2 separate regions of the Homo sapiens genome follow, and region 2 is linked to region 1. Evidence: fine-mapped expression QTL. A gene starts in region 1. The other region holds a variant in brackets. All regions are shown on one strand. Distances are between the middles of the regions. Region 1 holds the start of PPFIA1 (PPFI scaffold protein A1). Region 2 overlaps PPFIA1 (PPFI scaffold protein A1).

Region 1 (11,238 bases):
AGCCCAGGAGTTCAAGGCTACAGCGAGCTATGATGGTGCCACTGCACTCCGGGCTGGGTAATGGAGCAAGACCCCATCTCAAAAATAAACAAACAAAAACAGTTAAATTCCCACATAACAGAAAAATCACATGACTGTCTCAAAAGATGCAGAAAATCCATGTTAAGAAATTTAATACCTGCTCATGGTTTTTAAAAAACTCTTGGCAAACTAAGAAGAGGAGAATTTTTACATTTTGATAAAGAATATCTACAGGGCCAGGTGTGGTGGCTCACAGTGGTAATCCCAGCACTTTGGGAGACCAAGGTGAGAGGATCGCTTGACACCAGGAGTTGGAGACTAGTCTGGGCAACCGAGTGAGTACCCTTTTCTTAAATTACCAGATCTCAAGACAGACTATATCTATGGGAATTTAGACATTGTGCTATTTGTGCAAAGATGACAAAAAGATCAAAGGAGCAGAAGAGAGTCCAGAAACAGACCCACACACTTACAGTCACTGGACTGAGATGACACTGCATGTAGTACACTGGGGAAAGAATAGTCTTTTAAGAAATTATGCAAGGTCAACTAGATATCCATTTAAAAAAAGAAAGAGAGACTCTTGGCCCCATCGCATACCATAAACAAAGTCAATTTCAGATGGAAGATTAAAAAATAGTTTTTAGAAGACAATGTAGAATATCTCATGAACTTGACCAAGCAAATTTCTTAAACAGGACACAAAGAGCATTAAACATTACTGAAAAGATGGATCAACTGGGCTACATTAAAAATTTTACACTTCTATGTATCAAAAGATACAACTGAGAGAGTGAAAAGGCAAACACAAGAGTCTAAAAACAATCTGTCATGCACATATGTACTCAGAATATAGAGAAAACTCCTTCAAATCAGTAAAAAACAAAACAGACAACCCAATCAACAGATGGGCAAAAGATAACCGTTTCACAAAAGACATCCAGGTGGCCAGTGAACACAGGTAGAGATGCTTTACCTCTGCATGTTCCTGGCCATCAGGGAGCAGCAAATTCAGACCATACTGAGCCACCTACCAGCTAACAGCCACCAGAACAGCTAAAATGTAAAGACCCAACAATACCAAGTGCTGAAGAGCATAGGAGCAACTGACTTCTCATACATTGCTGGGGTAGTACAAACTGTCACAACCACCACTTTTGGCACTCTCTACTGAGGCTGAACAAATGCACACACCATCATTTGCATTCCACTTCTTTGTAGAAATCCAACAGAAGTGTACACATATCCTCCGGCCTGGGCAACATGGTAAAACCCCACCTCTACAAAAAATACAAAAATTAGCGGAGGGTGGTGATGCGTGCCTGTATTCCCAGCTACTTGGGAGGCTGAGGCAGGAGAATCGCTTCAACCTGGGAGGTGGAGGCTACAGTGAGCCGAGATCATGCCACTGCACTCCAGCCTGGGCAACAGAGTGAGACCCTATCTCAAAAAAAAAAAAGTTTATAGACATCTGCACCAAAAAACAAACAATATTAGGGGAGCACGTGTAAAAACTGGAAACAACCCCAAATGTCTGTGAGCAGTAGAAAGAATAAGTTCTGTCTGTTCGTGCACGGGATGACCAGAGAGCAGGTGAGAATGAGCAAGCTGCATCTCACAAACATGATGCTGACGACAGAATGAAGAAGCAAAACATACAGATTATTTTACTTCACTTAAACAAAGTCAAGAACAGGCAAAAGTAATCAATGGTGAAAGGTCAAGACCTTGGTTAGCTCTGGGGGACAACTACTGGGAATAGTTAGGAGGGGACTTCTAGGAAGCCTGATAATGTTCCATTTCTTGATCTGGGTGGTGGTATGCAAGTGTGTTAACTTTGTGAAAAGTCCACTGAGATGTATACTTACGATTTGTGAATTTTTCTGCTGTATGCTATAGTTATGTATATTTTTAAGTACACTCTAACTTGCCTCCACAATGTGCCAGGAGCACAAATGCACTTCCTGGACTCATTATCTGGTCACACTACCAGCCACCAAAGATGAACCAGATGCCAGGAAAGGGAAGGGTCCAAAACAAGTTTACTTAATAGTTTCCATTTTTGAAAGGCTGGAATCAGGTGCTCAGGTGGTAACGTGAACCGTTGGCATCATCATGTTATCCACTGAACTAGGCATTCCCAGGCTGCTACACTGAGCAGTGCCAGAAACAAATCACTGAGCAACCATGTCACCAGTGTGTGTGACAACCTCCACAGCCTGCGACTAACTGTACAAAACTCCTGTCACTTCCCTGACATGTCTTGTGTGCCCATTCTTTCCAAAACCTACCTTATTAAGTATATTAGTATTTGATATACACTTCAATACGTGTACCTTAAATTACAAATACAATAAAATCCTGGTAAAACATAAATTGGCTACTTCTTTTAAAATTGTAGTAATAAAATTCAACATAAATAAACTTGGTAATTTATAAGATTGAAATAAGAAAAATCTTAATGATTCTTTAATCCAACAAAAAAGGAACATAGAGCGCTAACGTCAAATTATTGTTGCTAAAAAGGAAACCCACGTTTGGCTTATCAATCTTTCAGGAGAACTGACTACAGCCAAGAAACACATTAAGGCTAGTACTTATTCATTTACTAATTTATCACTGCAGACCCATCATGCGAGTATAAATGTGTGCTTATGCGGGTCTACCTGAATGCACCCCAAAGGCACTTATGATGAGTAACGTGGCGCCTAGACAGCTCTGAAACACATAAATAACCCACTTCTCTCCCACTATGCCCCGTGCCACTCACCTTACACTCTTCTAGTTTTTACTTTCTCCCTTTACCTACCATTAAGTAAATCCTCATTCAACTCCATGAGCAAAGTCTTTCAAACACTGGTCCAAATGTAACATACTCAGAGAAACAATTTCAGTTGTTCTAAGCTTTAAAAATCTTTTTTTTTTTTGAGACAGGCTGGAGAGCAGTGGTGCAATCTTGGCTCACTGCAACCTCCACCTCCCGGGTTCAAGTGATTCTCATGCCTCAGCCTCTGAGTAGCTGGGACTACAGATGCGCGCTACCACGCTCTGCTAATTTTTGTATTTTTGGTAGAGACAGGGTTTTGCCATGTTGGCCAGGCTGGTCTCAAACTCCTGACCTCAGGTGATCCGCCTGCCTCAGCCTCCCAGAGTGCTGGGATTACAGGCATGAGCCACCACACCCGGCCTAAGCTTTAAAATTCTCATCTGCCAAGGAAAAAGTTCCTAAGGAATCAATCTCGAGTCTTCTATCCCCTAAAACAAATGTGACTTACAAAACCTAGATGTTCTGATAAAGGTGGGCTATCAAAATAATTTTTTTTTTCCGTGAAATCAATCCTATTTGTCTATTAAATTACATTAGGAAATTAGAAATACATGAGATAATCCATGGGAAGTACAAGTTTAGCCAGAAAAGGCTTAAGACAACAGAATGGAGGCACCAAATAGATTGGTTGCTTCAGAGCCCTTTTTCAAAAACTCTGGAGAACTTCCTGAACCTAGGCAGTTCCCAAAGATAGGAATGAAAATAATGAGGTATTTTCACATGACTTTAGAGTACAACGATTTGTTCTCCCTAAGAAGTTTAATCCCTAGGAACTTTGTATTTGACTTACAAACACCAGAAACTATCATTTCACAAATCGTTACGGAAAATACTCATCTGAAACATTAACAAAAGATGACACTAATAAAAAAACATTTAGTGGAGAAAAATCTATAGTTTCAGGTTAAAAGCACTCATACCTGTGGAAGTGCCGTGTTGAGCTGTCTCTGCAAGGAATCTCTTTCATGACCAACCTCGTGTAACTTCCCCTGGGTTAAGGCCAGCGTTTCTTGAGTCTCTCTCAGTGTATCAAGAAGGCGGTCCCTTTCTTCTAGCATGGAGACCATCAACTGTTCAAAATGTGAATCTGCATCTGGCTGTGAAGGGGAGCCGGAACCATGGCCTCCACCTCCTCCAGGGGGGCCTTCTGCTTCGCTGATGGTCGGCATCACCTCGCACATCATCTTGAAATGAAAGACCCAGGCTACAGTAATTAAGCTCAGAATACAGGTTCCCACAAATATGCAACTTTACAGGTATCTGTAGCTAAAAAGATGGGCAGTCTCATTATGCTCAGATCTGTTATGCTTTGTGTGTAAATAAGCTGGGAAAACATACACAGGGCAAATATTAAGTGCAAAAATACACAACATGAAGACATTAACACAGACAAAAATCCAGGGAAGGGGTCAAGATCCCAAAGGACTACCCTCACAAAAAAGGGCAAGCCCTGGGGTAGTCTGTTTGCAAAGCTGTACTTGTTTTTGCTGAAAACAAGTGTGCTTCTGTTACCTATTTTTTTTACTTCCCAGTGGGGTGGGGAGGGTGGGGGGGTAGGGGGGGAGAAAGTCAAAACACATGTCACCCAATCATTTTTCAGGAAAAGCACAGAAGGAGCATACAACCAGCAAAACTGACAAGTACAAAATCCATCAGGCATCTTGCAGGAATGTGTGCAGTCAGCTCCCGGGAAGAACTGACGGCTCCCTGAATTCTTGGGCTGGATTTGGTGAGCACTAAAAGGAACCGGATTCGTTAAACGCTGGTAGAAGTGTTTTCCAATGGCTGCAACGGTTGGTCAACCTAACTTACGTAAGTTTACAACCGAAAAAAAAAATCCACAATGGAAATATAGCAGGTCGATACAGCCGGGGGCGGCTAGGAAAGAGGGAAAAGTGAAAGGTGAGATTACGAGAGTCTATTAAGTGTCTGGGATATAAAGACAGCGCCAGGGAAAGGGGAAGTCGCTTCTGAGCCTTTCGGGCAGTACTGGGGGCGCGGTGGACCCCTGAGAGGGGGATGCCCCAGACGGCGCACCTGATGGGGATGGTGACCTCCAGCCTGCTCGAGCCGCACTCCTCCCCTCCTGTATCAGGTGCGGCGGAAGCCCCGAACCCCGGGGGGTGAGGACCGTTGACAACGGAGCCCGCTCGGGCCAGGGCTTTCAGCGGCCACAGGTCCCCGCCCCTCGCCCCAGCGCCCGGGTCACGGGGCGCGGGGCTCGGGGAGGGGCAGCGCGCAGTCCCCGGAGCCGTCCCTTGGGGCGCGGGTGTCCCGCCGGAGCTCTCCCAGCGCGACCCGGCGCCGCGGCCTCGCCCCCACCCGTCCCGGAGCGCACCCTTCCCCGCGGAGACATCTAATCGGCTGCGTGGCCGCCGCGGAGACCGGGACGCGCCGGTGACGCCTGGGCCCCGAGCCTGCCTCAGTGTCCCGCTCCCTTACCTTGCTCGCCGGCGGGAGCGGGCGAGGAGGCTCCGCGGCGGCTCGCGGGCGGCTGCTCGCTCCGGGAGAGCTTGGGAGCCGACGAAAGCAGCCCGCGGCCGGCGTCCGCCTGCCCGCCCCACGCCGCGGCCCCGGGGCCCGCCGCCCCAGTCACTAAGGCCGGCCCGCGGCCGGACACTGGCGGAGCGGAGGAGGAGCGGGCCCGGCTGCGCGGCGCCGGCGTCTACGTGCCCGACGTCGAGCGCGTCGGCGCGAGCGTCAGCACCGCCCCGGGGGCGGGGCCCGAGGAGCACCTTGGCCCGAGTACGCAAGCGCTGTCTCCTCAGGAGGGGGCGGGAGGCGGCCCCGGGGCACTGATTGGCTGAGCGAGACGGGAGCCACGCCCCCCAGGCCCCGCCCGGGTCGCGGGGGAGGGGGCGGTCTCCGGGATGAGCCACAGGTGGGCGCTCAGGTGCTCGCCGGGTCAGCGTCTTCCTCCGGGCGTCCCCAGTTTCCCCCCACGGCTGCAGGGACGCCGGAGGCCTTTGCTGAGTGTCTACCGCGCCTCGAGTTCTGAGCTGGACGCGTCCGGCACGTCAGGTCCCTCCCGAGCTGGAGGCTCTGGATTCGCACCTTGCAGAAGAGCGAACCGAGGCTTCAGTCACCACCGAGGACCCAGACCCCGCCCGCCGCGGCGCCCCTACGGTCTCCCTGGGCCTGATCTGGGTTCAGAAGGACGGAGTTCCCGCCAGGACCCACTTACGGAGCGCTGCCTGCCGCACCTGGGGACGTCCCGGCGCAGCGTCCAGAGTGCAGGCTTTGCCGCTGTGGCTTTCACTCTGCAGCGTGGGCCCGGGCGACTCGGGAAACCCGCCTGGGCTTCAGCGCCTCCGATGTAGGATGGGAAAATGATGCAGACCTACCTGCGAGGCTGCTTTAAGACATGAATCAGATGTGAAGAGCGACTAGTTGAGAGCCTGACGGGCAGCACTGCGCGAGTCTTGGTCATTTCATCTTTTCCGCAAGTTTTTTTTTTTTTCCAGACGTTGTTTCACTCTTGTCACCCAGGCTGGAGTGCAATGGCGCCATCTCGGCTCACTGCAACCTCTGCCTCCCGGGTTCAAGTGATTCTCCTGCCTCAACCTCCCGTGTAGCTGGGATTACAGGCGCACGCCACCAAGTCCAGATAATTTTGTATTTTTAGTAGAGACGGGATTTCTACATGTTGGTCGAGCTGGTCTCGAACTCCTGACCTCAGGTGGTCTGCCCGCCTCAGCCTCCCAAAGTGTTGGGATTACAGGCGTGAGCCACTGCGCCCGGCCTCAGCAAGAATTTTTAAACATCTACTATGGGCCAAGTCTTGTGCTAGATGTTGCAGATACGGAGATGAATAGAGACACCTCTAATTAATTAAAGCGGATGCCCTCCCCACTCCTCCCAGGATTTGACTCGGAGCACAAACTCTTCACAAACCAAAATGTCAGGACACCATCGCCAGTGTCCACTGGCCACTGCTGTTGGTGTGAGGCAGCCAGGAGCCCCTCAGAACTAGTAAGTCTGAGAAGAGGCTGCACGGGGCCTAGGAGAGGGAGAAATGAGCCCGTCCAAGGTGAATTCCTTGATTCTCCATTGTGAGTGCACCAAGAACAAGCACTCCCTCCGACTGACTCTCGCCTACCAGGATCTGGAACACCTTCCATTAATTTATTCGTTCATTCAATAAATATTTATTGACTGACTACACATAGATATGAATATGTACTTTTTGCCCCTAGTTTCTTGCTATTTTAAAAGTGTAAAAATGGCCAGGTGAGGCCGGGTGCGGTGGCTCAAGCCTGTAATCCCAGCACTTTGGGAGACCCAGGTGGGCAGATCACTTGAGGTCAGGAGTTCAAAACCAGCCTGGCCAACATGGTGAAACCCTATCCCTACTAAAAATACAAAAATTAGCCGGGTGTGGTGGCGGGCATCTGTAATCCCAGCTACTCAGGAGGCTGAGGTGGAAGAATAGCTTGAACCTGGGAGGTGGAGGTTGCAATGAGGAGATCATGCCACTGCGCTCCAGGCTGGGAGACAAAGCGAGGCTCTGTCTCAGAAAAAAAAAAAAAAAAAAAACATTGGCCAGGTGCAGTGGCTCACGTCTGTAATCCCAGCACGCTGGGGGGCCAACGTGGGAGGATTGCTTGAGCCTGGGCAATATATCGAGACCCATGTCTATACAAAAAATTAAAAATTAGTCCAGCAAGGTGGGCCACACCTGTAGTCCCAGGTACTTGGGGGATTGAGGTGGGAGGATCGCTTGAGCCTGAGAGGTCGAGGCTGCAGTGAGCTGTGATTGTGCCACTGCATTCCAGCCTGGGTGCCAAAGCGAGACTCTGTCTCAAAAATAATAAAATTGTAAAGTTGATCGCTTAGATGAGGTGTTCTGCAAGTACCCTGTACCTCTCCACACCCCAGCAATTCTGCACAACTCCCAAGTTCCCCTGAACCACTGTCTGAAACCAGCAAATTTCCAGCTCTCCTTAGGGGTACCTGCTTAATGCAGCCAGCTTATGTTTGCACCATGCTCATAAAGTGTCTGTTTTCTAAGAAATCGGCTCAAGGCCGGGCGCAGTGGCTCACGCCTGTAATCCCAGCACTCTGGGAGGCCGAGGTAGGCGGATCACGAGTTCAGGAGATCGAGACCATCCTGGCTAACACAGTGAAACCCTGTCTCTACTAAAAATACAAAAAATTAGCCGGGCGTGGTGGCAGGCGCCTGTAGTCCCAGCTACTCGGGAGGCTGAGGCAGGAGAATGGCGTGAACCCGGGAGACGGAGCTTGCAGCGAGCCGAGATCGCGCCACTGCACTCCAGCCTGGGCAACAAAGCGAGACTCCATCTCAAAAAAAAAAAAAAAAAGAAAAATCGGCTCAAGATCAAAATTTAGTTCGGCAGGGTAGAATGTTCATTCATTTCATGAATATTTGTGCAGCATGTATGAGCCAAGCATGGCTTAGGTCTTGGGAACGCAGAGCTAAGACATCACTTCTAGTATGAGTTCACAGTCTGGAGAAAGAGAAGAAAAACAGACTATTGCAATGTCTGTCCCGTAAACAGTGTGTGACTTGGTGCTGTGGAATCACAGGGAAGGGAGGAACCCGCTCTCCAGCTGGCATCATGGGGGCTTCATAGAGGAGGCAATATCTGAGCTGGGTCTTGAATGATGTGGGATTTTTCCAGCGGAGAAGGGAGACACCCAGTTGGTATAGCTCCAGGAAAATGAGAATTCTGAATTTCATTTTATTTCTTTCTTTTCTTTCTTTTTCCTTCCTTCCTTGCTTCCTTCCTTCCTTCCTTCCTTCCTTCCTCCCTTCCTTCCTTCCTTCCTTCCTTCCTTCCTCTCTCTCTCTCCCTCCCTCCCCTCCCCTTACCCTTCCTTTGTTCTTTTTCTCTCTCTTTTTTTTTTTTTTTTTGAGACAGGGTCTCATGTAGTCACCTAGGCTGGGATATAGTGGTTCGAACACAGTTTACTGCAGCCTCTACCTCCCAGGCCCATCAGTCATCTCACCTCAGCTCCCCAACAAGTAGCTGGGACTACCAGCGCAGACCACCATGCCTGGCTAACTTTTTTGTATTTTTGGTAGAAAAGAGGTTTCACCATGTTGCCCAGGATGGTCTCAAACTCCTGAGCCCAAGCAATCCTCCCACCTCACCCTCCCAAAGTGCTGGAATTACAGGCATGAGCCACCACTCATGGCCCTCATTCATTTTAATTCATTTATTATTTCATTCCCCCAGATCGCAAAATCAGTAAGGGGGAAATCGTAAACAACCTAAATGGCCAAGAAAACAAGATTGGTTAAATTATTGCACTTCCAAATGACAGAAAACTTGGTGACATTCACAGTCATTTTTTTTGAGACTGAATCTTGCCCCGTCGCCCAGGCTGGAGTGCAGTGGGGTGATCTCGGCTCACTGCAGCCTCCGCCTCCTGGGGTTCCAGAGATTCTCCTGCCTCAGCTTCCTGGGTAGCTGGGATTACAGGCACACCTGGCTAATTTTTGTATTTTTAGTAGAGACTGGGTTTCACCATGTTGGACAGGCTGGTTTCGAACTCCTGACCTCAGGTGATCCATCCACCTCAGCCTCCCAAAGTGCTAGGATTACAGGTGTGAGCCACCGCACCTGGCCCACAGTCATATTTTAGATAACTACATATATCATGATTGTGGTGGTAGTTACATTACTATATACGTTTGTCAAATAACTGTACATTAATATGTAGAGTATGCCTTAATTTTTATACATAAACAAAAACTTTTTTAAAAAAGCAAATTCAAACAAGTATACAGAGTGTGAACCCCAATTTGAAAAAGAAAACAGTCTGTGTTTAGATTAAGAATGTATTATGTAAAATTTACCTTGTAGATGAATAACTCTAGAATGTTAAGGTGATACATTTTTAATAAAATGAGTTTTATATGACATGAACTATTCTTGAAATGAGAAATTAAATTTTAAGTTTCAAATTATGAAAGAAAAACATATGTCTACATAAGAAAATATTGTTACTGTAGTCAATTAGTTCTTTATCTTTCCCCACTTCCCGCATATATATATGTATATATTCTTGGAAGGAGATCCATCAGAATGTTCGCGGTGGTTATCTTTAAGTGGGATTGTGGTTGGAAGCTGCATTTCTTTCATTTTGCTAGTCTTTATTTTCTAGATACTTTATCATGAATGTGCGTCATTATTATAATCAATAGGAAAACCTCCAATAAATGTTCATTAAAATTCAATCTGGACAAGTGAGAACCATGGAGAACTGCTTTCAGGAAGCTAACATGACTTTCAGATGGATTTACTCATACCACCCAGCTAAACTACTTCCCAGAAGTATTTATCTGGAAAACATTTCTCAGAGCTTGGGTGACATGCTGTCACCCAAGGCTCTGTCAGGAAAACAGTGAAGATGGAAAATGTTTTCACTCCAGTTCTTCTGTAAAAGACTTGATAAAGAAATTATGATAGAAGGAGTGAGGAGGGAGCAGAGAATTTATCACTACTCCTGGGGTTTCATGTTTGCAAATGTGGCTGCGGTGGAGGTCAGCCAGCCTCTGCTCTCTAGAAGGTGCCTGGATGATGCAGTTAGTTGTCAACCATGAGCATCACTCAGGACACCTCTCCACTCCAGAGATGTAAGCGGCTTAAGAAGGAGGTTCCTGCGGGGATCGTTGTGGTCTGACCTCAATCATAGAGATCAGGATGTGCCCAAATCTACCCAGAACATGTAAAGCCACCTAATGAATGAGTGCTGTGACAACACAGTTCAGGGGGAGGTCTGAGCTGGAGGAGCCCTAGGGCAGTAGATGGTGGAGGATGTGGTCGTTCCTTTAAGAGAAGGGAGCTGAAACCCAGAGATGCAAAACAGATTTCCCTGTAGACACTCAGAGAGTTTGGGGCAGAGCTGGAGGTGGAGCCTTGAGTGAACCCAGGGCTCTCAATTCCCCGTCCTGTCCCCACGTCGTTGTGATCAAGGAGTGGCCTCTTTAAGGAACAACTGAAGAGAAAACATTTTACCAGTTGGTCTGCAGTGCAGCCGAAATAATTCAATTCCCAGGGCCAAGAGCTACCATTTTACTTATTCATCTCATTTCATTCTTTTTTTTTTCCGAGATGAAGTCTCACTCTGTCGCCCAGGATGGAATGCAGTGGCACGATCTCAGCTCACTGCAACCTCTGCCTCCCAGGTTCAAATGATTCTCCTGCCTCAGCCTCCTGAGTAGCTGGGATTACAGGCATGCGCCACCACGCCCAGCTAATTTTTGTATCTTTAGTAGAGACAAGGTTTCACCATATTGGTCAGGCTGCTCTCAAACTCCTGACCTCAGATGATCCACCCACCTCGGCCTCCCAAAGTGCTGGGATTACAGGTGTGAGCCACCGCCCCTGGCCACCATTTCATTCTTAAAATAGTTCTCCAGG
Region 2 (11,238 bases), 91 kb before region 1:
GCTTCCACTAGACTGCATGTCGGCTAGTTCTGGAGTCATCACCACAGCTCAGTCTTGTTTATATTTCCACCGCAAAGAGCAAGGTTAAGCTTATTTAATTTACACTTCCTGTCCCTGACTCAGGCAATTTCATACTGAAGTATTAACCAAATTCTGCTCCTTGGTGGAAAATATACTGAAATTTAAGTAATTATGAAATGTACCCTGTATAATTCATTTATGGTCATTATTGGTCCTATAAAGGGATATCTAACAAGTTAAACAATGAGGTTATTTATCTGGAGGAGAGGCACAGAATGCTTAAATCAAGAGAGAAAAAAGCCCACAGAATCACATTATAGCTACTCTATTTTGTTAAAAAATACAAATAAAAAATAAAAATAAAAAAAGGTGGGGGGACAGTCTAATGAGCTAGATTTTAGGAGTACCAAGAGAAGGAAACAGCTGCTTCAACCATCACCTCGTAATCAGGAAAATTATGATTTAAAATCCTTTTGATTCTTTTCAGATATATAATGATTATTCTGAAGCCCTCAAATACAGTCCATTCGGGAAAGCCTCTAGAACTGCCTGTCCACGCCTCATGGCTGCAATGTGCCACTGAGACATACACCCTGACCACAGAAGGCCAGTGGCGTCGCACGACATTTCGGCAAGCTGTCTGAACATACAGAATGCAAAACAGTTGGGATAGAGTTTTTGGTGAGTTAAAGAATTGAGAAGCTGAAAATTCAAATATACAGTACTCAAGAAGAGGCTTAATTCCTTAGGATTCCATTAGTAAGAAAATCTTTAAGTGGACATAGTATTAGGATAGTATTTAGTAAAAAATCAACACAAAGGCACAGAGGAAAAGTCATTATGCCAATTTTTGTGTTTGGAAATTTATTAGAGCACAATTTCCCTATCAGTATATCTTGTAATAACATTACCCTACCAGGAAATTACATACATAATCTCAGAAGCTGCCTAAGCCACAAGACTTTGTATACAAGATCATATGTTAAACAAAGCAATCTATATTAATTAAAAATAACTGCCATGGCACCATATGAGAAATGTTCAAAATTGTCCATGAGACGTACTCTTTGATGCTATGTTTTGCTTGACCAGTGCTTTCAAATCATTAACAATCCTGTACTCCGAATAAACTAAGATGCTATAAACATCAAAAAAAGTAGATTACACAAGTTTTCATACTCCAATTGCTTTTTGCTGCTGTACATGTAGTGAAGAATATATTAGAGAAAGACTCCAACCTGAGCCCAGCTTCCCTCCTCATCTTCCTGGGGTTACGTGGTTAGGAATGCAAAAGAACATAACTATTAGTATTGGTGAGCTCGGTAATGCAGGCAACGCAACTCTGCAGGGAAGATGCAGCTTCACTGAGTGAAAAAGTTCAGACTATCAAAGCATCATGCAAAACTCATGCAAAACCAACAATTTCAACTTCTCATGCAAGGAGCAGACTCTCTCCGTGCCAAGCATATTCATGGAAGGAGAAAGGGCCACACAGTCAGTCACATGGAGGCTCAACTGAGATCTCTCCAAAAGGAGAGCTAGATTAAAGCTATTCTAAAAGACAGAGTCTACCAACTTGAAGTTCCTGGAAAAAATCTAAAATAAAATACAAATTCTACTTACACATTTCAACTAATAACTAAAGGAAATACTTATCTGGAACGACTGAATGGAAAACAACATTTTGTTTTCAACAAAAAGGCAAAGAACCCAGACGGTCTTAAGTGGAAAACGCGCTGGGAGGAGTGCAGGCTGTGGGGCGTGACTAACCGTTTGCGGCGTGGCTGCGAGCGTTTCCATCTCTTCGTGTGTTAACCAGACATTTCCTGTGGTCTAAGGTGACCCCAGTGCACCAACCACATCCAGGGCAAGGGAAGCAGTGACAAAGAGGAGAGGGGCACACGCATAAGCCACAGGCACAGAGAAGGGGCCGAGGAGGCAAAGTTCGCTCTTCTCACTTTTCAGTTCAGATGCCCGTACAGAATAACCATTCCCTGTTAACACTGGGTCGTCAACACCATCAGGAGAAGAGCACACGATGACGAGAGCTTTAGATGCCATGCTTACCCGAGGTATGTGAAATATCAAGAGAAGAAAACACGTTGTGTACTTCTGGAAACTTTGAGTAATTCTCAAGTAACTATTGATTCAATATATTTAAAGCAGATTAACAACAAAGAACCCAGCATGAAACTCTTGCTTTGGCTATTGGAGGGCTTTCTCGCAGATGTTCCGTGACGGCCTGAAAGGCTGAAGGCAGGCCACAGGGCAGAGGGGGTCACTGCTAAGCAGTGTCGATGGCTCTGTGCAGCCATCAGAACCAGACACGAGACAGACAGTGGCCTGTGTGTCTACTTGAGGGAGATTTTTTCCTTGCATTTTGACATGGTGTGAAGAGTCTGCCTTATGTGAGGTGTTCTCCATCATTACTGAAGACAGTGGATAAACATGGGAGAAACCACTCAGCACCTTCATTTTCAGCAAGGCCACTGTCATGTGAAACAACCAGGGAAGAGCTCAGACACTGCTCCTGAGGCAGGCTGTGGGAAAGGAGCTCTTGGAGCAACAGGGGAGGACAAAGCTTATTGTTCATCACCATAATTTGTTCATTAAGAAGAAAAAAATAAATAAAACAAGTAAAACCCCTCAAAACTTTTTTTGTAAGGTAACTGGGAGCCCTAAATCCAGCGCTGACGTGCTCCTTGGAGAAATGTGTGAGGCTCTTCATTGCAACAAGAATTTGTTTTCTCCTGAGGAGACTAAAAGCAGAGACTGGGAATCCAGCCAGTGTAAAAAGTCTCAACTTTATAAATCTGGAGTTGGCCTGCCCTTATCTCCCAATAACCATTCTTGTTTTTATTAACATAGTTCTTCTTTTTCAAGTAGGATAACCCTTCTTAAGGACTTTGAGGGACTTCCCACATGGAGAGAAACTGTATAAGTACAGCTCATGTTGGATGAACATTTGCAGATTTGTGAACTGCTTGAAATCCTGAGCTCCCAGGGTCTTTAGCTCCCCAAATGGAAAACACCTACAGGCCAAATAAATCAAATACAGTAAAACACTGGTTACAAGGCAACCAGTGATCTCATCTTTATTTTCCCCTTTAGTTTTTATTTTAAAAAATGTCCGCAAACTGGAATGATGGGGAAGGGAGGATTAGAATTCTTTAGGGACCTTTTCCAAGCATGGCTGTGCATGCCTGTAGTCACAGCTACTTGGGAGTCTGAGGCAGGAGGATCGCTTGAGCCCAGGAGTTCCAGACCAGCCTAGGCAACAAAGTGAGACCCATCTCTACAAAAAATACAAAAATTCCTTAGGGATCAGTTTTGACGGTGGGATAACAAGTATCTCTTACTAGTATGTCACCTATATTTCAATGGATGCTTCTGGCTGGGCATGGTGGCTCACACCTGTAATTTCAGCACTCAGGGACTCTGAGGCAGGAGGACTACTGGAGGCCAGGAGTTCCAGACCAGCCTGGTCAACACAGCAAGACCCTGTCTCTAAGAAGTTTTTAGAAATTAGCTGGGTGTGGTGGTGCACACCTGTAGTCCCAACTACTTGGGAGGCTGAGGTGGGAGGATCGCTTGAGCCCAAGAGGTTGAGGCTGCAGTGAGCTACGATTGAGCCACTGCACTCCAGCCTGGGTGACAGAGTAAGACCTTGCCTCCAAAAAATAAAAAACTTAAATAAATAAATAAATGGGTGCTTCTAAGAAGCCTGGAAGAGCCAGTCCTCTGAACTAGACAGAAAAATTTTACTCAAGATGCTACTTACACATGGAATGATACGGATGAATTCACAGACATAACATTAAGTGAAAGAAGCCAGACACAAGAGAGTGAATACTACATGATCTTGTTTATACACATGAAGAACGAAACTAACAGAGCAGTCTATGGCACCAGGAGCCAGGCACTCATCCCTAGGGAAGGGGCAGTGCCTCAGAAGGAGCAGGAGGCCTCCAGAGCCCTGGTCAGATCCCATTTTTCAATGTAGGTGTGGACCACACAGGGGATGCTGACTTTACAGATTCATTTAACTGTTCACTCATACGTGCATTTCTCTATATGTATATTATATTCCAGTAACATTTAAAAATACACTATAATTGGCTTAGCAAATATCTTTATATATAGTACAAATGTTAATTACTCAGTTTGAATCATGAAAACTGAAAAATGAAATTCAAAACATTTAATTATAAAATGTGTCCTTAAAATATTAACTTTTTCCTTCAAGAGGCCCTTAGACTGATTCAATTTTGATAAACTCAGCTGGGTGTGGTGGCTCACGCCTGTAATCCCAGCACATTGGAAGGCTGAGGTGGGAGGACTGCTTGGAGCCCAGGAGTGCAAGACCAGCCTGGGCAACACAGCGAGACCCCCATCTCTACCAATTTTTTTTGGTATTTTCGTATTTCATATTTCCATATTTAAATTTGTAATTGCTTTTCTATGTTTAAAAAAGCTCATATTTTTATACTATGAAGCCATTCTAGCCAATCTTTCATAAAAGCATTTAATAAAGTTTCTTTTGACCATCCAATTCCCCAAAATTAAAAGTTCTAATGTATGTGATGCTAAAATTTTGAATTAGAACTATACTTCATATGCTGTTAAGGAACTGGAGAAGCAATGTAAACAGGGCAGTGATACCTTCAGAGAGGCATTCCCTGTTTCCAAAGAATGCAGGGGTTGTCTCTGAACGTACCGTTCTAGATGTGGGCGGGGCAGACGGGCTGGTCAGCGACATGATCTCCTGGATGGCCAGCCTCAGCTTCAGCCTGTGCAGGGGGTTGCTGATGCCAATCTCACGCTGGATCTCTGTGTCGGACAGGGCCGACATGATGGCCCCGCTTTTCACGTTTGCTCGGCAGGCAGCCACATACCAGGCTGGCATCCCAACCCAGAGCTGGAGGCGGAAAGCGGAAGGAAGGCAGCACAGTGAGGTACAGTCTACAAAGTAGAACAGTAAGTTCACATACTGTAACCCA[C/T]GCAACTGCATGTTAAATGAAGGATGTACCTCTAGCCAGACCACAACCGTTGGCCCGTCCCATTGGGCAAAAGGTAAACCTTGTCTCCGGGCTTCCTCCAGCAATTCATGCCTATAAAGGAGAAGATATTGAAAATTAAAGAATCAGCCAGGCATGGTAGCTCACACCTGTAATCCCAGCTCTCTGGGAGGCCAAGGCAGGAGGACCACTTGAGCCCAGGAGTTCAAGACCAGCCTAGACAACACAGCGAGACCCCAACTCTACAAAAAATTTTAAAAATTTGCAAGGTGTAGTGACACACCCCTGTAGTCCCAGCTACTCGGGAGACTGAGGCAGGAAGACTGCTTGAGGCCAGTAGTTCAAGAGCAGCCTGGGCAATATAATGAGATGCATCTCTACAAAAATTAAAAAAAAAAAAAAAAATCAGCCAGGTATGGTGACGCATGCCTGTAGTCTCAGCTACTTGGGAGGCTGAGGTGGAAGGATTGCCTGAGCCCAGGAGGTCAAGGCTACAGTAGGCCATGACTGTGCCACTGCACTCCAGCCTAGGCAACAGAGTGAGACCCTATCTCTAAAAAAAAAAAAAAATTACAACCAGCAAAAACAAAATCAAGGAACCACTATTATACACATATATAAAATTAGTTAACGAAGTGTTCTGAGCATTTGCAAAAGTCTAGCAGTATACAGTCTGCCCTCTGTATCTGCGGCTTCCACATCCACACAGTCAACCAACTGCAGATCAAAAATATTCAGTGGGAAAAAACAAAAAAAACCAATACAGTACAACAGCTATTTACATAGCACTTACATTCCGTTGGGTATTGTAAAGAACCTAGAGATGATTTGAAGTCTACAGGAGATTATGCCTACGTGATACGGAAATACCATGCCATTTCATACAGGAGACTTAAGCTTCCATGGATTTTGGTATTCAGGAGGGGTCCTGGAACCAATCCCCCATAGACTCTGAGAGACGACTATACATGCTCATCATTTTCCTTTCATCTTCTACAGCTTTAACAGTATCAACACCATCCATTTCACACTAGTTCTGTGCATACTACAAAGAATGCCTGAGTGAGAAAATACTGAATGACTCCCTCTGACTCTCTACAGAATCCCCGTCTCCTTACAGAATCAGAGGTTAACATAATGCTCTCTAACATAGGTATTTCAGAAATAACACTATAAGCTTGGTGAATCTCATCTTATTTCTCAAGTGTTTACCTACAAGGCTTTCAAAGAGGCTAATTGTTTTAAAAAATAAAAAGTCTCAGAGAGAAGGTGTCATTGTAATGGAGAGGACACATACATTTGGTTTGCAAGTACAGATATCCCCAAGTCATTCAAACATCCCTAGGCTGCTTTTAGTCCATTTTTTCTATAATAATTTCATAAGACATATACCATAGAATCTCTTATTTTTAAAAATTTGATATTGGCTCTTCAATACATTTCAATAGCAGCAGACTTTTCTTAGGAGTATGAAGTGGTATCGCAAGATGCGAAATGAAGAGGTTGGGAGGAAGGGCGCGCTGCATGGCGCCAATCACCAGGTGGTGGCTGAAACCCTGCCTTCCGTTCCCTTGGGACAAATGCCACTCAAAGACAGCCAGTAGAGCTTCCTTCACACACCAGTGGGTCTAGGAAGTAGTACAGGTAATTCCTGCCACATCAATCCCAGAAAAAGCTCTGAACGCTAACAATCTGGTTAACTGCTAAGGCTTTGAGCGTCCGGGGCCTGGCCAAGGCGCAGGGAGGATCTGACTGCTGCCAAGTCAGGAGGGTTCCCAACTTACGCTCAGCCTTGGCACTCTGCCAGAGACTTCGTTTTTTAACATGTAATAGATACTCACTGTAAATAAAAATAATTGTCAAAAAATAATTCTTTACTTCTATTACTTGGAGACTGGTGTACACTGTCCTAGACTTCACCAGTACCCTCTTCCTGGCAATGATCACTAGCTTTTATAAAAAGTCTTTTCCAGAATGGAGATGCTTCTGGGTCCAGAGGCAACAGTGGAAACAGTGTTAAGACAGTGGAGGTAGACGGATGTGTCTAAGAGTCACAGGAAGTTAGGGAGAAGGCAGAGGAGACCCCATCTGGGTGGCGGGCCCAGGCCTCGGTGTGTGTCCTGGCTCCCCTCCCCTATCAGACCAGTCCATGATCTGTAAGACCAAACATGGGACCATGCCCCTGGGCTGGCACTCCAGGTGGGAACACCAGAGCCCCTGTTTTCTCTGGGGGGACTGTTCCAATCACGGGAAGAAGGCCCCTGTGTCGAGGGGATGCAGAGTCCAGAGCCTGGAGATGGCTGAAGCCACTCCACCCTGGCCCTCTGGGCCGTTCATTTACATGAACAACTACATTCCTCCTTTATTGCTTGATCTCAGACTTGGCTCTTTCACTTGCTACTGAGAATGCTATAATGCAAAAAGGTCATATAATTTGTGAATAATGTTGTGCATTTTATAATTAAGACATAGCATAACGGTAAAGTTGTCTTTCATAATGAGAAGCTTGTGTGAGTTTTTGCTGATCAAACAGTATGTAAGGGATGGGAGGAAGTACTTTCTCTCAACTATCGAAACTAAATATATTGCCTTACTTTCTTAAGACTGAAGCTTTTCAATCCTCTGGCACCCTGCATAGAGTGAACAAGACTTGCTTTCACAGGTACAGTTGCTACCTGGGTGACAGAGCAGGACCCTCTCCAAAACCCATAAAAAAACACCACCACCACAAGTACAGTTCTGTGACCCAGGCATAGCCCCTCCCATGCTCCATTGCCATGGCACACTGGCAGAGTCCTGAGGAAAGATGTAGGGTCGCCCTGATGAGAAATGGATGGAGTCAGCATTTCTCATGCAAAACTAAAAAGATCCTTGGGCCAGGTGTGGTGGCTCATGCCTGTAATCCCAACACTTTGAGAGGCAGAGGCAGGAAGATCACTTGAGGCCAGGAGTTCAAGACCAGCCTGGTCAACATATTGAGACCTCTGTCTCTACTAAAAATAAAGGTCAAGGCTGCAGTGAGTGGTGAACGCGCCACTGCACTTCAGCCTGGGCAACGGTGCAAGGGCCTTCTTTTATTTTGCAAGGGCAAAAATAAAAAAATAAAAAGATCCTCTCAGGAAGCTCAGCATAGAGCCTGTGGCTGGTGACTGCCCACACTCAGCCCAGCAAATCTCCCGAGTCTGCTTACCCTGAGAAAGCACTACGAAGACAAAAAGGAGAACATGAAAAGGGAACACTTTAAAAGCAAGGTTACTTCAAGAGATGGTGTTTCAAGAACGCTGGGGAATTCTAAAAGTGCTGTGGAGGCACTATGCGCTATCAAAGCTGACGAATGGCTCTAGGACAGCCAGCCCCGACTTGCGGGTTCATTACTACGTATCCCAGGCACCAAACGCGCCCACCATGCTGTGTCTTACAAAACTTGAAATCAGCTTGCCACCAAACTCACCAGATTCCTTAAGTTCTCTGTAAGTGAAAGCATCTGGCTGTGTAAATTTTGCAGTTAAAACACACCTTTGAGTTAAATCAGGGGTTAATAAGAAGAAAATAATTCTGAGAAATATACGTTCGTTCTTAAGATGGCATAAATATTAAACTGTATTCACACAATACTTTTTCTGGAAAACGCAAACTTTTTTTCACATTTATATGTAGACATTTTAGGCCAGGCGTGGTGGCTCACGCCTGTAATCCCAACACTTTGGGAGGCCGAGGTGGACAGATCGCTTCAGGTCAGGAATTCGAAACAAGCCTGGCCAACATGGTGAAACCCCATCTCTACTAAAAATTCAAAAAAATTAGCTGGGCACGGTGGCACACGCTTGTAATTCCAGCTGCTGGGAGGCTGAGGCAGGAGAATCACTTGAACCCAGGAGGCGGAAGTTGCAGTGAGCCAGGATCGTGCCATTGCACTCCAGCCTGGGCGACAGAGTGAGGGACTTCGTCTCAATCAATCAATCAATAAATAAAGCACTTTTTCTAAAATCAGTTTTATCTCAGTTTAAGTGAAAGAAACGAAACTGCCCTCTATAGTCAGACAAATAATCTTTGTACTTGGAAATTTTCCCCACTAAGGAGCTGGTACATTTCAGAACTTCCACATGGATCCCAAGCACAACATAAAGGACAGAGAAGTTTTATTTCACTTCCTCATACTTACTATCATAAAAACAGTAACATTAGCAAAATCTAAGGAATGAAATTTTCCTAGCATGTTTCCAGGAGGCAGAAAGTTTAGCTCTAACATTAAGTTTCACAGGGCCAAATGGCAATTACCCAAGTTATTTGAAAACATTCTTGGCTGGGCGCGGTGGCTCACGCCTGTAATCCCAGCACTTTGGGAGGCTGAGGCGGGCAGATCACGAGGTCAGGAGATCAAGACCATCCTGGCTAACATGGTGAAACCCCGTCTCTACTAAAAATACAAAAAATTAGCCGGGTGTGGTGGCGGGCGCCTGTAAGTCCCAGCTACTCGGGAAGCTGAGGCAGGAGAATGGTGTGAACCCAGGAGGCAGAGCTTGCAGTGAACTGAGATTGCGCCACTGCACTCCAGCGTGGGTGACAGAGCGAGACTCCATCTCAAAAAAAAAAAAAAAAATTCTTACACAGTTCAAGCATAGCAATGTTCAAATCAGATTTTGCTGTTACGTGGTTTCTATAAATTTCCATTTACAGGGAACCAAAAAACTGAGTATTCCTATGGTACTGTTAACATAAAAGCATTTTACCTAAAATATAATCAATACAGCATTTATAAAGGCTTTGAAAAGAAAACTAAAATGAGATAGATTTCACAACAGAAAAAAATCAGCTGGCAACTCTAGGGGCTAAAGGCAAAGGGGCCTCTAGGGGAGAGGGTCCCCATAGGCTCTGGTGCATCTTTGGGCCCCAATTTCCAGATGAGCACTGGTTTCTCAGGGCACTTAAAAGTGGCCAGATGATTTTTCCCACAGTCACAGTCATCATACAGCCCGTCAAGTTTCACCCTGTAAGCCTGGCATTACCATCTTCCACATTGCTCAAGCTCAGCCCTTATCCCATGGACTACACAAACTGCCTATTTTATTGCAGAACTGGGTTTAGTTTTGTTCTACATTTGTTGGCTCACTTGGGCACTGTCTCAGCCTATCTACTTCATCTACAGTCAGCCAACACGCAACTCACCCCGCATCCCAGAAGGCCCAGGGACAGAAACCCGATTCCTCCACGTCCTCACCCTGGGGCATCACAATGCCTGTTCTCCTTTGTTCAAAGCCATCCCAAATATTAGAGCTTATTGTCAGAAGCAGACTTAGTTTAGAATTAAAGCTGAATAAACGGGCTATAAAATCAGGAGTCTATTTGAGATAAAACTACCCGATCTACGGAAGAGAGAAAAATGCAGCATGGCGACTGTTTCGGACAGACCAGCAGTATGAAGAGCAAATCCTGAATGCTGGCAAGCAACAGTCGCTGCACTGGCCACAGCTACAACTTGTTTATGACTTGCTGGTACTGTTTAAAGAACTGTATGCACATTATCCCATTTAATTCTCATAAAAGCCATACAAGGTATGTACTACTAGGATCCCCACTTTACAGATGAGAAAACTGAAGCACAGAGATGCTAGGCCACTTCCTCAACGTCACAAAGTGAACCTGGGCAGGCGCCAGGGCCGACTCCAGTGCTCAGGCAGCTGAGTCCAACTCTCACCCACCCTATCTCCTGGTTGGACAGCTTTCCAAGATGATAGGGATACCAGTGTGAGTTTCTTCGAAATTTCACAAACACTAAATCTTCCAGAAAGTACGGCTTAATTAAGGCTGTAGGTAAAGCTTTCAGAATATAATGTATATATACATAGCTAGCTATTATAATTAACAAACACTAGTTAGAGCTTAGGCACAACTGAAAACCATTCAATGAGATGAAGAAATAACACAAAGCTTACTTTTTTTGAAGTTTACGATTTTTTTCAGCCTGTCCCCCCAATTTGCTAAGTCCCAAGGCATCCTGAGATGAGTTATCCGTCTCGGAAACACCAGCTGTGAGGAAGCAGAACAGCCCAGAAGTAAAAATCAGCATGACAAAGCTCTATGTTTTCATAAATAGGCAGATGAATATTTGCAGGTTCAGATTTAAATCATTTCTTAAGGCTAAGTTTCTGACTAGACAACCAAATGCCCAAGACGGAAATGCTCAAGACAGGAAATGTGT

The links. PIP is the estimated chance that this variant, and not a neighbour inherited with it, causes the effect.
Region 2: its variant is fine-mapped to the expression of PPFIA1 in whole blood (INTERVAL, PIP 0.96).

What each region holds. Positions count from the first base shown.
Region 1 is chr11:70,264,967-70,276,204 of GRCh38, reverse strand. PPFIA1 (PPFI scaffold protein A1) reads right to left here and starts at 5,515. Exons shown (of 28, transcript NM_003626.5): 1 at 5,291-5,515; 2 at 3,769-4,032. The coding sequence starts at 4,032. RefSeq lists silencers at 4,911-5,340, 5,381-5,930.
Region 2 is chr11:70,355,989-70,367,226 of GRCh38, reverse strand. It overlaps PPFIA1 (PPFI scaffold protein A1), which reads right to left. Exons shown (of 28, transcript NM_003626.5): 19 at 10,973-11,066; 20 at 5,051-5,132; 21 at 4,739-4,939. It overlaps CTTN-DT (CTTN divergent transcript), which reads left to right. Exons shown (of 3, transcript NR_186321.1): 3 at 509-4,583. Among named protein-coding and RNA genes, the nearest start is that of CTTN-DT, 37 kb to the left of the region's middle. The variant C/T (reference allele first, on the strand shown) is at 5,022.